Linked DNA regions of Homo sapiens. The protein of the gene in region 3 purifies or fractionates together with the protein of the main gene of each other region. This does not show direct contact. Each region holds a gene or a part of one and is shown on either strand. Other genes may lie near its edges.

The links.
Region 1: the proteins of HTR7 (region 3) and KMT5C purify together in Homo sapiens (tandem affinity purification; one large-scale study listed by IntAct). This does not show direct contact.
Region 2: the proteins of HTR7 (region 3) and PFKP purify together in Homo sapiens (tandem affinity purification; one large-scale study listed by IntAct). This does not show direct contact.
Region 4: the proteins of HTR7 (region 3) and TUBA8 purify together in Homo sapiens (tandem affinity purification; one large-scale study listed by IntAct). This does not show direct contact.

Annotation. Positions count from the first base shown.
Region 1 is NC_000019.10:55,342,876-55,345,748, reverse strand, and holds part of KMT5C (histone-lysine N-methyltransferase KMT5C), read right to left. Parts: exon of another isoform or gene 2,070-2,873; coding exon 1,906-2,069; intron 1,772-1,905; coding exon 1,752-1,771; intron 1-1,751. UniProt on the Homo sapiens protein: Histone methyltransferase that specifically methylates monomethylated 'Lys-20' (H4K20me1) and dimethylated 'Lys-20' (H4K20me2) of histone H4 to produce respectively dimethylated 'Lys-20' (H4K20me2) and trimethylated 'Lys-20' (H4K20me3) and thus regulates transcription and maintenance of genome integrity.
Region 2 is NC_000010.11:3,070,548-3,074,047, forward strand, and holds part of PFKP (ATP-dependent 6-phosphofructokinase, platelet type), read left to right. Parts: intron 1-3,500. UniProt on the Homo sapiens protein: Catalyzes the phosphorylation of D-fructose 6-phosphate to fructose 1,6-bisphosphate by ATP, the first committing step of glycolysis.
Region 3 is NC_000010.11:90,746,540-90,750,039, forward strand, and holds part of HTR7 (5-hydroxytryptamine receptor 7), read right to left. Parts: intron 3,056-3,500; coding exon 2,300-3,055; coding exon of another isoform or gene 2,296-2,299; exon of another isoform or gene 2,295-2,295; intron 1-2,294. UniProt on the Homo sapiens protein: G-protein coupled receptor for 5-hydroxytryptamine (serotonin), a biogenic hormone that functions as a neurotransmitter, a hormone and a mitogen.
Region 4 is NC_000022.11:18,113,809-18,117,308, reverse strand, and holds part of TUBA8 (tubulin alpha-8 chain), read right to left. Parts: intron 1-3,500.

The DNA.
Region 1 (2,873 bases), on a different chromosome or scaffold from region 3:
GCTCTGGCCCTGCCTTTGGGATCATTCACCCAGGAGCTGCCCCACAGGCTCCTCCTAAGCCCCACACAGCTGCGCCTTCCTCCCTGTTCCCCGTCTAGGAGGGGGCATGACCACTGTCCACCCAACTGTCCATCTACCCATCCACTCAAGCCTGACATTTGCCTGGGAGTAGCCCTCGCCACCTGCCTGCCTGACGGCCCCCAGACCAACCGGCCACTGCCTTCTGAGTGTGCCACCTCCCGCATCCTCATCCTCCTCGCCTCCCCGAGACCCCTACTGGAGTCAGCCCCTCATCACCTCTTTGTGGCCACCCTGCCTACAGCCTCTCCCCTTCCTGCCAAGCCTCCTGCACATGGGCCTCCAGGGTGACCTAAAAACCAAGCTTCCCATTATACACCCTGGGGGGAGCTTCCATGGCTCCCTGGCCCGGACCCCAAGGCCTTGCTGCCGGATCAAAGCCGTCGCTGGGCACCCCCAGCCCTCTGGTGTGCCGTGTCCTGCTAGACGCCCCCCTTTGCCCCTGATTTCCTTTAACACCTAGGGAAATTCTACTCCTCCGTCGATGCCCAGCATGGCTTCTGTGAAGCCAGATGGTTCTAGATCGCTGGAGAGCTGGCCGCCCTCTCGTGTGCTCAAGGTGGCTGGAGCACACTGGCCCTGCAGAGCCTCTCCGAATGCCGCCTTTTGTTTCCATCCCCCCCAGCGTCTGTGTGTGGTGTCAGACCAGGGCCACGCATTCGCTGTCCAAAACCCTCCGGCACACTTGACCAGCCCGCAGAGTTCCAGAGATCCTCACCAACCCCATCTGAGATGAAAAACCAAAGGCCAGGGGTGGCATCGCCAGGACCCCAACTCAGTTCTGACTCTGGAGCCAAAAATCTGGATCCCTTTGTCATGCCTCCCGGGGTGCCCCATCGAGGTCTGTGCTCCAGAGGGTGCACCCTCAATGCCGCCCTGGAGCCAACCCTCCTGATTCCTTCTGCTTCCGGGCTACAGGACAACCAGCGGCCTCTCCTGGGCATGTCTGGACAGCATCCTGAGTCCTGGCCCCTGGGGCTCTCTGGCCTCCCTGCTCCTGCCACCACAGCTGCCTGCGTTGTTCCCTGCAAGGCCGGGGGCTCCCACCACAGGGCCCTGCCTCCCTGCCACACTCCCTGCCCAAATTGGCACAGCTCCCAGCTCGGTTTTCAGAGAAGAAAGATGGCCAGCAGCTGGCAACCAGGGTTCCAGTGCAACTGCACAAACAGCCGGGCAACGCTGGCCAAACTGGAACCCCTTCCTCCTTTCTGGTAGCCTTGTGAGCAAATACCCACTCTGCCCCTTCCAGGACCCGTGGGAAGCCATGGAGACATGGGGCAGCATTTGGCTCTTTTTTTTTTTTTTTTTTGAGACAGAGTCTCGCTCTGTGGCCCAGGCTGGAGTGCAGTGGCGCGATCTCGGCTCACCGCAAGCTCCGCCTCCCGGGTTCACACCATTCTCCTGCCTCAGCCTCCCAAGTAGCTGAGACTACAGGCGCCCGCCACCACGCCCGACTAATTTTTTGTGTTTTTAGTAGAGATGGGGTTTCACCGTGGTCTCCATCTCCTGACCTCGTGATCTGCCCACCTCGGCCTCCCAAAGTGCTGGGATTACAGGCATGAGCCACCGCGCCCGGCCGGTGTTTGGCTCTTTACTGACCAAAAACCCTTTCCCCAGGCCACAGGCACCCTTTCTTCCTGCGTGCCCTCTCCTCCCGAGTCCCAAGGCCTTACCTTGCAGTTGGGTTTGCAGTCTGGAGCCAGTTGGGGCAGGAGAGAGAAGAGAGGTAGATGAGCTCGGCAGCTCAGTCGCAGAACCCTCCCACTACACCCCTCCAGCCCTGCCTGGCTCTATCCCGTCCTGCCCATCCACCTGCCTGACCCTCACCATGGTTGATGAAGGCGGCTGGGCCCAGCCACAGCTGAGCACTCCGCTTGCGGGTTGAGTACATGATGCTGAAGTCATTCTCACCGGCCCTCAGCAGCCCCTCATCTGCCTCCCGCAGCTCTGCAATGCAGCCCACCAGCAGCTCCAGCTTCTCATTCTTTTTCCTGCCAAGAGGCCAGGGGGCAGGGCTGTGGGCGATGCCTGGCCTCCTGCAGGTGTTCAGGGGACTCGGGCCTCCGGCACAGAGGCACCCAGGAAGGAGGGACTCCTGGGCGCTGGTGCTGGCTATTGGCGATCCATCTTCCAGATCTCCCTCTTCCCCTCCTGCCTGGGTGGGCTTCCCTGCTCCAGCCCACAGCCCCACAGGACCCTTCTACTGAAAGCCTTCAGGGCAGCACGCACACAGCAGATACAGCCCCCATTCTCTCCCCTCGCTCTCATAGCACCTCCTGCCCCCAAATCCCTCCTGCCTGGACTACCCCCTACTCGCCCCACCAGACCCTCAGGCGGGTGCTTCCCCTGTCAGTGTGAGCCTCGCCCTGGGAGCACTTGCTCATTCCTCACAGCTCCCCTGCAGCATGTACCAGCTGGGACCAGTGACTGCATGTTGACTTGTCTGCCCCCCACCTCCTCACCAGACTGTGAACCCCGCAGGGGCAGGGGCAGGGGCTCCTCATTGCACTCAGGGGTGTTTAACATGTGGTGGGGGCTCAGGTCACAAGGAGGTAAGGACAGCACGGCCCTGACCAGAAGCCTAGTTCTTTCCTGGAAGCCCCAGGAACCCTGGGGTCACATCCGGGGTCTCCTGCTCCAGCGGCACCACGGTAGCCACAAAGGTCTTCCGGGATTAGCCCCACCACCTTCCTAGGATGCCCGGAGGACCAGGCCCCTCGCTTTTCCCCGGTTGGCCAGTCCATGAACAGAGGGTCTCTCTTGTCCCCTCTGAGCTCTGTCTCCTCCAAGGATAC
Region 2 (3,500 bases), about 88 Mb from region 3:
TTTTGTATTCTAAGAGCTTTACACTTCTTATCTCCAAGCCTAAATACATGATCCCAAGAGAGGCGTGTCCTCATTTTGGAAGTGGGGAGAAAGACTCAGAAAGAAAAGTAAGTTAGGTAAGGGCATGAGGTGCATACGTGATTGTGATAGGAGCAAAACAGATCTTAATTCCAAATATTGTACTCTCCCGTAGACCACGAAGAGTACTTATGTCTGGCTGTGTCACCCAGGCCAGAGTGTAGTGGTGCCATCATAGCTCACTGCAGCCTCAAACTCCTGGGCTCAAGTGATCCTCCTGCCTCAACCTTCTGAGTAGCTGGGAAGACAGGAATGCACCATCATGACCAGCTAATTATTATTATTATTATTATTATTATTTTTGTAGAGACAGGATCTCACTATGCTGCCGAGACTGGCCTTGAACTCCTGGCCTCCTGTAGTGATCCTCCTGCCTTGGCCTCCCAAAGAGCTGGGACTACAGACATGAGCCATTGTGTCAGGCCTCCACCATCTCCACCATGTTTTTCAGGGACCTTTCTTGGTGAAGCTGCTTTATCTAGTTAATGCTCAAAAGTGAGCAAAACCCGATTTGCCCAAAATTACACAGATATTCTTTGGGTGGCTTTGTTAGGGGAACGGAAAATGCCTTTTTATAGTGATAGGAGTCCAGGTGGCAAGAACGATATTATGTGATGGGCTGCTTTTTCTTCTCTCAGTAGAGTGTATATTATTTAATTATAAGATACAATTGAAAATCTCTTTCTCTTTTCTATATTCCCGACTCCCCGGGCCTTGAATGAAGAAAGTATTTCTCAGGCTGTTTTTGTTTGTTTGTTTGTTTGTTTTTTCTACTTGCTTGGATATCTTCTGTCTCAGGCTGTTTTTTTTTTTTTTTTTTTTTTCTTTCTCTTCTTCTGCCTCTTTATGTATCTTCTGTTGTCCCAAGACATGTCTGGAAACTTAAATTGATTTTCACTCAATCTGAAATAAGCTCCATAACTCTGAATGGCGGACTTACCATGACTAAGTCCCCACTGCCACAGAACACTGTGCCACACACCAAGAGTGACTCATTGTCTTAGTCACAGGTTGTGGCTTCTGAAGGTCCTGGTGCCTGGTGGAGCTGAGTGTACTGGGAAGTCCAGGTGCATCCTTAGGGTAGGCTGCATGTGAAAGCTGCGTCCTTTTTGCCTGTGGTGAGGTGAATATCAATACAGTATTTATAGAAAGTCCACATAAATTGAGTAAGTACAAACCTTTCCAATCCTAGTGAGAATAACTAGCATTAATGACTCTTTGTTATGTGGCAGGGCCTCAGTGATCCTGGGCAATGACTTATCCCTATTTTACACATGAGCAAGGGGCGCCTGAGTTGCACCACCTTCCCTGAGTTCACAGAGCTCCGTGGTGGGGCCGGGCCCTGTGGCTGCAGCAGGGATGTTCAGGGCTGCGCGTACCTGCGTCTTCACTGGTGTCTTTCCCGCGCCCAGCACCATGCCTGGCGCTTCGCAGGAATGCAAGTGTTTGCTGCCTGCCTCCTGCCTGGAATCTCCACTGAGGAGCAGGAAACCAGGGGTTCTAGCTGTCTTCTTCGTCCATGAAGTCCTTTAGAGGAATTCAACCCTCTCTAATTAAAAGTATCCAATATCCTCAGGTCAATATGTGTAAACTGTTAAGACTTCAAGATTAGAACCTTAAAACCGAAGTCAGAAGTGTGAGGTTTCCATTGGCTGGACGTGCATTAGGTCAATGACACACATATTTATTGGACACCAGGCTTGAGCCCCACATGGGCACCTTTGGTGTCTGAAGCAATGCTGGCTTCGGAGCCCAGTAGGGTGGAAGGGGAAACTGAGAACAGCGCCATTTTGCCTCCCACGGCTCTGGGCCCGTTACCTTCCTGTGTACATACATTATTTGATGGGATCTTTTCAGTGTAAAGTGCAGTAATTAATTTTGCAAAAATTACTGGGTCTGGGAGGCAGTGTGTTGGAATGATGGTGTCACCATGTGGCACAGTGGGAGATTTGTGTAATGGCATCATTTTCTGTGAATGCAGACCGTTTTGTGTGCCATACTCGAATGACCCTTCGAAGCTAGACATTTTGTCATCTTTCGAAAGAAGCATGTTTTCCCCCTTGGTTACAGAAAGCTAAAAGCTTTTGATACAGGACTCCAACCTTTTATCAGGGAGAATTAGGCTCTTTAAATAATTAGGGCTCTACCAATCTGATGGGCCATCAGAAGCAATTAAAATTAGAAAGGTGAAGATACGGTAACGTAGTCAGGACAAACATCAGGATACCAGATTGCACGTTCACAATGGCATTTCGGCTAAGAAAGTGCGGGTGAATATAGAACAGAGGGCCGTATGTCAGTAATTGGGTTCCGTTTTGTGTTTCTTTTCCACAAGCCCTTTCTGGTGTTGTGTTTTTGTTTATTAGAGAGTAGCTGCCCAAAGGCTACAGTTTCCCTCCCCACTCCTCGGTTCTCTCCGTCTTCACCCCCAACTCCCAGTCCTGTGTTTGGAATTACAGTCATTGTGCTTGTCAGGATGTAAGAGGCAGCCAGACACATGGCAGACCAGAGCACTGAGAGGCAGAGACATTTATAGGTCCTAGCCCTGGTCCTGCTGTCTGGGTCAGCAGGGTGCTGAGTGCTGAGTGCTGAGATAGGGTCTTGATGTTTTCCTCTGCAGAATGGAGGCATCACTCAGTCTCTGTCTCCTCTCCCTGTCTCTGTCTTCCCTCCCCTCTTCCCTAACACATATCCACAGTGAAAGTGTTCAGGAGGAAAAGAGAATAGGCTGGACTGTGCTGGGACCCCCAACCCCAGGGCCCGTGTGCTATTTTCCCAGCCTCCGTGTGCCCAGAGATGCCTAGGGGAGCCTGCGGAGGTGTAGATCCTGACTGTGTGGGTCTGAGTGAGGCTCCGACTCTCACGGGGAGGGCACCGGTGCTGCTGGACCCCCTGGGGCCAGTGGAGCGGTTTGCAAATCGGGCAGATCAGCTTCTCCACTTCTCCAGGTTTCCCCAATGTGAGATGCTCCCAGGAGTCCCATGGGATTGTTTTCTGACTTTGACCAGGATTTTGACAGAGAAGATTCATTAATATAGGACCCCTTGTCTAAACGTACATATGTAAATGATCTGATCCGAAGTTTCCTGAATGGAAAATGATTGAAAGGGTGGCATGCAGTAGCCTCGGGGAGTCAGTCCTTCATATCTTTTCAGCTGTGTCTTACTACGATTAAGATTTTATTTCTGTGTGTGTGTGTGTTTTTTTTGTTTGTTTGTTTGTTTGTTTTTGAGACGGGATCTTGCCCTCTTGCCCAGCCTGGAGTGCAGTGGCTTGATGTCGGCTCACTGCAACCTCCGCCTCCTGAGTTCAAGCGATTTTCCTGTCCCAGCCTCCCAAGTAGCTGGGATTACAGGCATGCGCCACCATGCTCACCTGATCTTTTTTGTATCGTTAGTAGAGATGGGTTTCACCGTGTTGGT
Region 3 (3,500 bases):
CTGAGAACTAAAACCAACACGCTTTCCTTTTCCTGTGCTAAAAAATGCTGCAGCCAGGCAAAATAACCTAGCTATTTGTTCTAGGAAATAGTCACTTTCAGAAGACTATATGCCAACAAAAATAGCCTACTTATCAAGACTAGTTTGCTCATTAACACTCACTTCACAGCCCTCATCTAGCTGTACTTACCAGTCTAAAGCTATTATGTCATAAACTCTGCCTAATCCTCACCAGTTCCCTACCTTCAAATCACCCAGCCCAAGCCCCAAAACCCTATCAATATCCTTGCCTTATTTCCTTCATCTGAGAAACTACTAAGACTGTCTAGGAGTGGATACCACTCGTAGTGCAGTAAGTCTAATAAACTTTACTTACTTAGAGTAACAATTCATTCTCATTGTCTTCTTAGAGAGCTTATGGCTAGTCTCCAGCTCAAAAATATTCTGAGACTCTTCACTGCCTATATACTGAAGTCACTTGACAAGTATAACTGCATAACATTCAATACAAGCATCGGGGTGATTCATATCACAGCTACCACTTAGGGACTGTGTGAACATAGGTCAGTTACTTTTGTTCCTGAGCCTTAAGTTGTTCTTCTGAAAAGTGGGGATGCTAGAAGCACCTATTTTGCAGGTAGCATGCTGCATAGCATGTAGCGGGTGTTCAATAATGGTTAGCAGTTATTACTTTTATTTATCATCTATTATGTGTCAAGCACTGTACTAGATTCTGCAGAAAGAAATCTGATTAAGACATTGTTCCTTCTCTGAAGGAATTCAAAATCCTAATGGTCAGTTCAACGAACTCTTATAGGCATAGTAAGATCTCTGGGTTTGCTTACAGTACATGTTCTAGAACTTAAAATTACATTTTTTAATGCTACTTTTTATATTGTGAACAATCTCGTGTACAAAAGAGTATATAGAAGTAAACATGAATGCCTGTGAAGCTACACTCAGCTTAAGAATTAGCATAGCTGTAGTCTTCCAACTTTCAGTTGTAAGATAAAGGCAGTCCAGTATAAGAAAAATGAGTAGCACTGGGATTCAGATGATGTGGAATCTAGACTTAGTTGTGACACTAGCTAAGTGTGAGACATCTCACTTTTCAACTCCCAGTTAGCTCTTCTGTTGAAAGACAGGGGTGGACAAGATGACCAGGAAGGTCCCTCTCTGCTAGAGTGGTCCCTGGTTCTCTAGTCTACTCCTCCCTGCCAGGCTCAGTGAAGAACGACACCTCCAACACTAATCTGCTCATTCTCTCACCAGAACCTTCCAATTTTTCATTCCAAGTTTATTTTTCCCCTGACTTTCAAACGTGAAGAAATCTCCTCTACCTCACATTTAAAACAAAGTCTTCATCAGACATGTTGACACCTCTAACTAGTATACTATCTCTTTCCTTCTTTACAATGCCAAATTTTTAACATGTGGGTCACTTCTGAAATTTCCATTTCTCTATCACCATCAGATCCTTTTTCAGATCCCAAGAACCTATTGTAATTGCTTCCTTGAAAGTCACTAAGACTTCTTAGACCAATTCTTGGTTCTCACCTGCCAAGATGGGCAGGAACATTTCCTAAAAGCTCCTGTGGCTCTTTTTCTTTTATTTTTTAGAGGCGAGTCTTGCTCTGTCAACCAGGTTGGAGTGGCATGATCATAGCTCACTGCATAATCCAACCCCTGGGCTCAAGCTATCCTCCTGCCTCAGCCTCCCAAGTGGCTAGGATTACAGAGGCGCTCCACCATGTCCGGCTCTTGTAGCTTTTAAGACCTTGCCTCATCCTGGCATCTCCCCACACTAACAACTCTTCTTTTTCCTGGGCTGCCTCCTTTCAGCCCAGGTGAATGTAACTGCATACTAAAAAGATCATTGTGCCTCCTACCTCAAAAGAAGAATTTATCTGTGAAGGATGAGGTTATCAAAAAAGCTTTACTGGACAGAAGAATAATAACAACTAAAATAATAATGTTACACAAATTCAGATGTAAGGATATCATTTGGATGTCATTTATGGAGAAAGAAGGGAAAATATCACCTGCCTTGTTGTCAATCACATCAATTGCAATTCATCAGCAAATTAGTCTCATCTACCAATCCAACTAAGTACCTATTTTTGGCTTTTGGAATTTTACTGGGTGGAAGACTGGAGTCTATACTGTTGTCAATTCAAATCTGGTATGTTTAGTAAAAACTAAGCTAGCTACTCGTTCAGGAAGCTTTCTGTGATGTGCCTCAAAAAGCTGCATAAAAGGGTTTGGGGGATAAAAGGAAAATAGTGATAAATGACCTTACAGCACAAACTCAGGTCTCTCTGGCCTCTCAGCAAGCTTCAGGGCTTCATGCATGCCTGCAGCTGAGAGCTTCCGGTTGATATTCCGGTACTGGCACTGGAGCAGGCTGCGATAGGTGGTCCTCAGGTCCCGGTTGAAGAAGGCATATATAAAAGGGTTAATGAGAGAGTTTGCATAGCCTAGCCACAGAAATGTCCTCTCCACCCACAGTGGGATGCAGCTGCAGGAAGTGCCACAGATGAAGGGTCTGGCTGTCGAGAGGAGGAAAAATGGCAGCCAGCACACGGTAAAGGCCCCGACGATGATCCCCAGGGTGGTGGCTGCTTTCTGTTCTCGCTTAAAGATGGAGATGTTTTTCCTTTCATGCTTGAGGAGTCTCGAAAGGTTTGCACACTCTTCCACCTCCTTCTGGAGCTTCACTATGCCATTCAGGGCGATGACGCTGTCTGGCTCCACTCGAGGGAAGCCAGGAAACTTGTGTTTGGCAGCACTCTTCCTGGCAGCCTTGTAAATCTGGTAGTACATGAAAAGCATGACGGACATGGGGATATAAAATGCCACTGCGGTAGAGTAAATCGTATAGCCAAAGTCCTGGCTGATCAAGCACACCTTATCATCATTTACATTCTGAGCCCATCCAAAGAGTGGAGGTAAGGTGATGGAGGCGGAGAGAAGCCAGACGGAGAGAATCATCTTCGCCATGCATTTCCCATTCTGCCTCACAGGGTATGTGAGGGGCCTTGTGATCCCAAGGTACCTAGTGGAGAGATGGAAAGATAACAGATGAACACCGTGATCATAACTGGTCAACCAAGCAAGTCCTGCCAGCCAGGTACCAGCGCCAGTCCTCGCAACAGCCCTTCTAGGTAGGCATCATTACTCCCATTTTGCAGAAAGGTAAACTAAGGCTCTGAGATGTTACCTATTTTATTCCGGGTCACACAGAGGCATTGCCAGATTGTAGCCTGAGAGCCCTCTGACTCTAAAGTCAGTCCATGCTTTGTGCATGCCTTATAGTTTTTCACAATCCACGAAGTCAACAAAGTTTAAAAAGCTCTCCGTCCCCATGACCACAGCCACCAAAATCAACCAGGACAACATATCAACTCTGATGTAGGATGTTGTGACACATTCTCAAAACTTAACCAAGGTCTACCACACTCTGGTATTATACACCCAGTGATCACCCCAGCTGTCTTAAT
Region 4 (3,500 bases), on a different chromosome or scaffold from region 3:
GTGGTTAAGTATGAAAACATCCTTATTTTTTAGAGTTGCATCCGAAGCATTTAGAGGTAAAATGTCATGACGTCTGTACTTTAAAATCCTTCCCAAACACAGCAAATAACAGATGGAAAAATCATTCTTCTTCTTAAATCTAGATAATAGGTATATGGGTGGCATATCACTCTACTTTTCTGAAGGCTTAAAATTTTTCATAGTAAAAAGCAAAAATCATAATAAAGAAGACAGAGAAAGAATAGGAGCACGGACTGCCCTCTCCAGAACCCCCTTATCCTGGGCCATTGCACGCAGTCACTTACTCAAATAATAATTGACTACGCGCCTACATTGCTAGGGCTTTGAAGTTCCATGAAGAAATCACAAGTGAAATTCAAAGCTGCACGAGGCTTCATGGCACTGTGAGGTCCGTGCCCAGCCCCAGCACTCTGCAGGCCTCTTGCACCTGCTCCTAGCAGGGAGGAGGAGCAGCCCACAGCTCCCGCATCGAGCTCCCGGCTCAGGCACTGAGCTCGACTCCTGCAGCCATGCTGCCCCATTACCCTCCCCAGCCTTCGGCCTGGAAGTTCCACAGAGCAGACCCAGTGCTGAAGCCCGTGGGACGCATCCTCACGTCTAAGAAAAGGCATCCTTCTATCATAACCAGGGATGTTATATCGGCTCCGAACATTTAGGATACCAGAGCTGGGCCAGTCAAGGGCATCCTTCTATCATAACCAGGGATGTTGTATTGGCTACAAACATTTACGATACCAGAGCTGGGCCAGCCTCATGGATCACCTAATATGATTCCCTCTCCATTATTTTACAGATGAAACTGCTGAGCTCAGAGAGGAAAAGGGACAAATTCAGTATGTCACAGCACTGCAGCAGCAAAAGAGCCTGGACCAGAATCCAGGGCTGCTGACCCGGGCCTGACTTCTTTCTTTTAGGCCACATGGCCTCCTGCCTCACTTGCAGCTCTGAACTCCCAGGGCCCTGGGGTGTGCCCACATCTGCGCCAATGCAAGACCAAGTTCGGATAGCAGAACTCCAAACAGGAAATGTCTCTTGTGCAGAGCGAAATGGCGAATGGCTCATGGGGCGGCCTCTTTGAAAATGGGTCATCTTTCTCTGACAGAACCAGAAGTCCGCTTCTCAGGGCCCACGTGTGCAGCTGGGGTTGGGGGCAAGGGGAAGCTGACCCAGCAGAGGATATTTAAGTCATGTGCCCGCTCCAAACTCATATTTCAGATTCCTCTGTCTAGCCAATCAGAGCACATGCCTGTCACTCACACTGCTCCTGTCTCTCTCAGTTCTATTTTCAATCTGGGCTTGTAGAGCTCAGACAAGTTCTGTCCTCCTTGGTCCCTGTGAGGGGAGGGGGTCCCTTGTTTGCTGCAGAAGCCTGTCCCACCCAACTTCTTCTGGGGGGTGAAGAGGAGGGAGGTGGAGGGACCAAGGAGGTCCCTTCCTCATGAAAAGCATGCCACTTCTCACACAGACCTCACGCTGGGATAGCTACAAAAGGCACCTACTCATTTCTACAGCAAATCTTTTTGTGTGGTTGCATTCGAGACAGCATTGTGAGGTTACTGGGCTAACTCTCATTCATCCTTCAGGTATCCAGTTAATTGTCACTTCCTAAGGAAAGTCTGCAAAACCCCAAGCCAGCATAGGGCCCTGCCATGTGCTCCCCCATCCCCTTCATTCCTGTCATTGTAATCATCACACCGTATTATAGCTGCCTGTTCATTTTCGCACCTTTCTAGTAGAGAACGTAAGCTCTGTGAGGGCAAGGAACCTTTGTTTCACTCAAGGAATCCCCAGTACCGAGCCCGGTGCTTGAATGTAGCAGGTGCTCAATTAACACAGGGAGGACTGGAATGAAAACCTTCCCTGAGGGGCTGCAGTCCATCCAACAAGGACAGCGGCCAGGGCCTAAGAAGTGTACGGGTCAAGTGCAGAGGGAGTTCCAAGGAGAAGGAGACATCTTCTAGCTTGGTTTCCTAAAGGAGGAATATTCGCAGGGACCCTGAAGAAGGCAGCCGGCCAAGATGATCTGGGGCAGTTCAGGTGGATGCAGGAGCAGTGTGAACAAGAGGCAGTAAAACGCAGGGTGGTTCCCGCACACTGCCCAGTCTGTCCGGAGCGCAGGCTGAGGAAGGGCAGGGCCAATGAGACATCTGGGCCACCTGTGAACACTCCGCCTGGGGAGCCACTGCCCTGTGAGCCAAGGCCCCTCGCTGGGAGGCATGAGCCCAGTGCCTGTGTTTTGCAGAGCATCAATAAAAGAAATTCTAGAACTTTGCAGCCCTTTTATAATTTTGCTGCAAGAAGCCCTTTTTTTTTTACATCATTCTTATATTCTATTTTAATAGTAGTCATTTCCTTTTGCTTTGTTCTCAGAGGACTAAGATAAGCTAATCACCATCCTTGGCAAAAGGAGACTTTGAAGCCTTAAAAAGGCTGTCTTGTGATACTATTTCCAAGTATCACAAGACAGTAAAAGTGGCATATCATCTGGGAGAGGGGCCGACGTGGACCACAGTGTGTGCCCTGTGAAAGCCTGGCACCACCCACACTCCCTGACCACCTGTGCTCTCATGCCCCAGTTGCTGTCAGGAAGCATGTGATTACACCGAATTATCTCTAGTTGTCAGGCTGGGATAAAATAGATCACATATATCTTAGGACCTAGGTCAGGGATGGCAAGTGAAAAGCAGGCCCACAGTGTCACAGAGGGGTAATTAAAGTAAGGACAGATGTGGCTCCTGAAGGGCTGCTGAATTCTCTCTGCTCAGAACTCTTCGATCATAGGGCATATTTGAGATCACTCATAACAAAGAATAGATAGCAAGCCAGACACAGCAAAAACAAAGTCGGCCTAAATTCACTTTAGCGAGTGAAGGTGGCTCGCGAGAGGGGCTCAGATGATAGGCACTGCAGTTAGGGCAGCAACAGAGCTCACAGGAGGCCAGCTCTGGCCATGAGGCCATCTGCTAAGGAGACTTCCAGCATAAGAGGCCGGAGGGCGTTGAAGGCCTGGGCTGTGGCTGGCACTGGGGCAGGTGCAAGAGACACTTAGGAGTTTCAATCCGATGCACACAGTGCCTGCTCCATCTCCTGCTCTCTTCTGCAGCTTATTATCTGAGAGAACTCCTAACAGGAAGACACTGCAGGGGAAATGCCAACCACAAAGGCCACAGATAGTGCTGTCCGTCCCTTGCGGCTTGAGGGAAAAGGAGCATTTGGTCTGCTTCCTCCCCCCGACAGTGCCACATCCTCCTGCCCACCCCCATCACTGGCCCGCTATCCACCAGCTATTTCCCCCACCAAAATTATTTTTAACTTTCATCTCCCTTTGAAGGTCACTAGGAGAAAGCACATTCAACAGTGGCATTAACCCCCACCCCAAGCTCTGTATGGGCCTGACCCAAGGCTGGGGGCTCCCAATGGACTCACCAATCCAGCAGCTCTGCCCCAGCCGCTGCCCTGTGAGCCAAGGCCCCTCACTC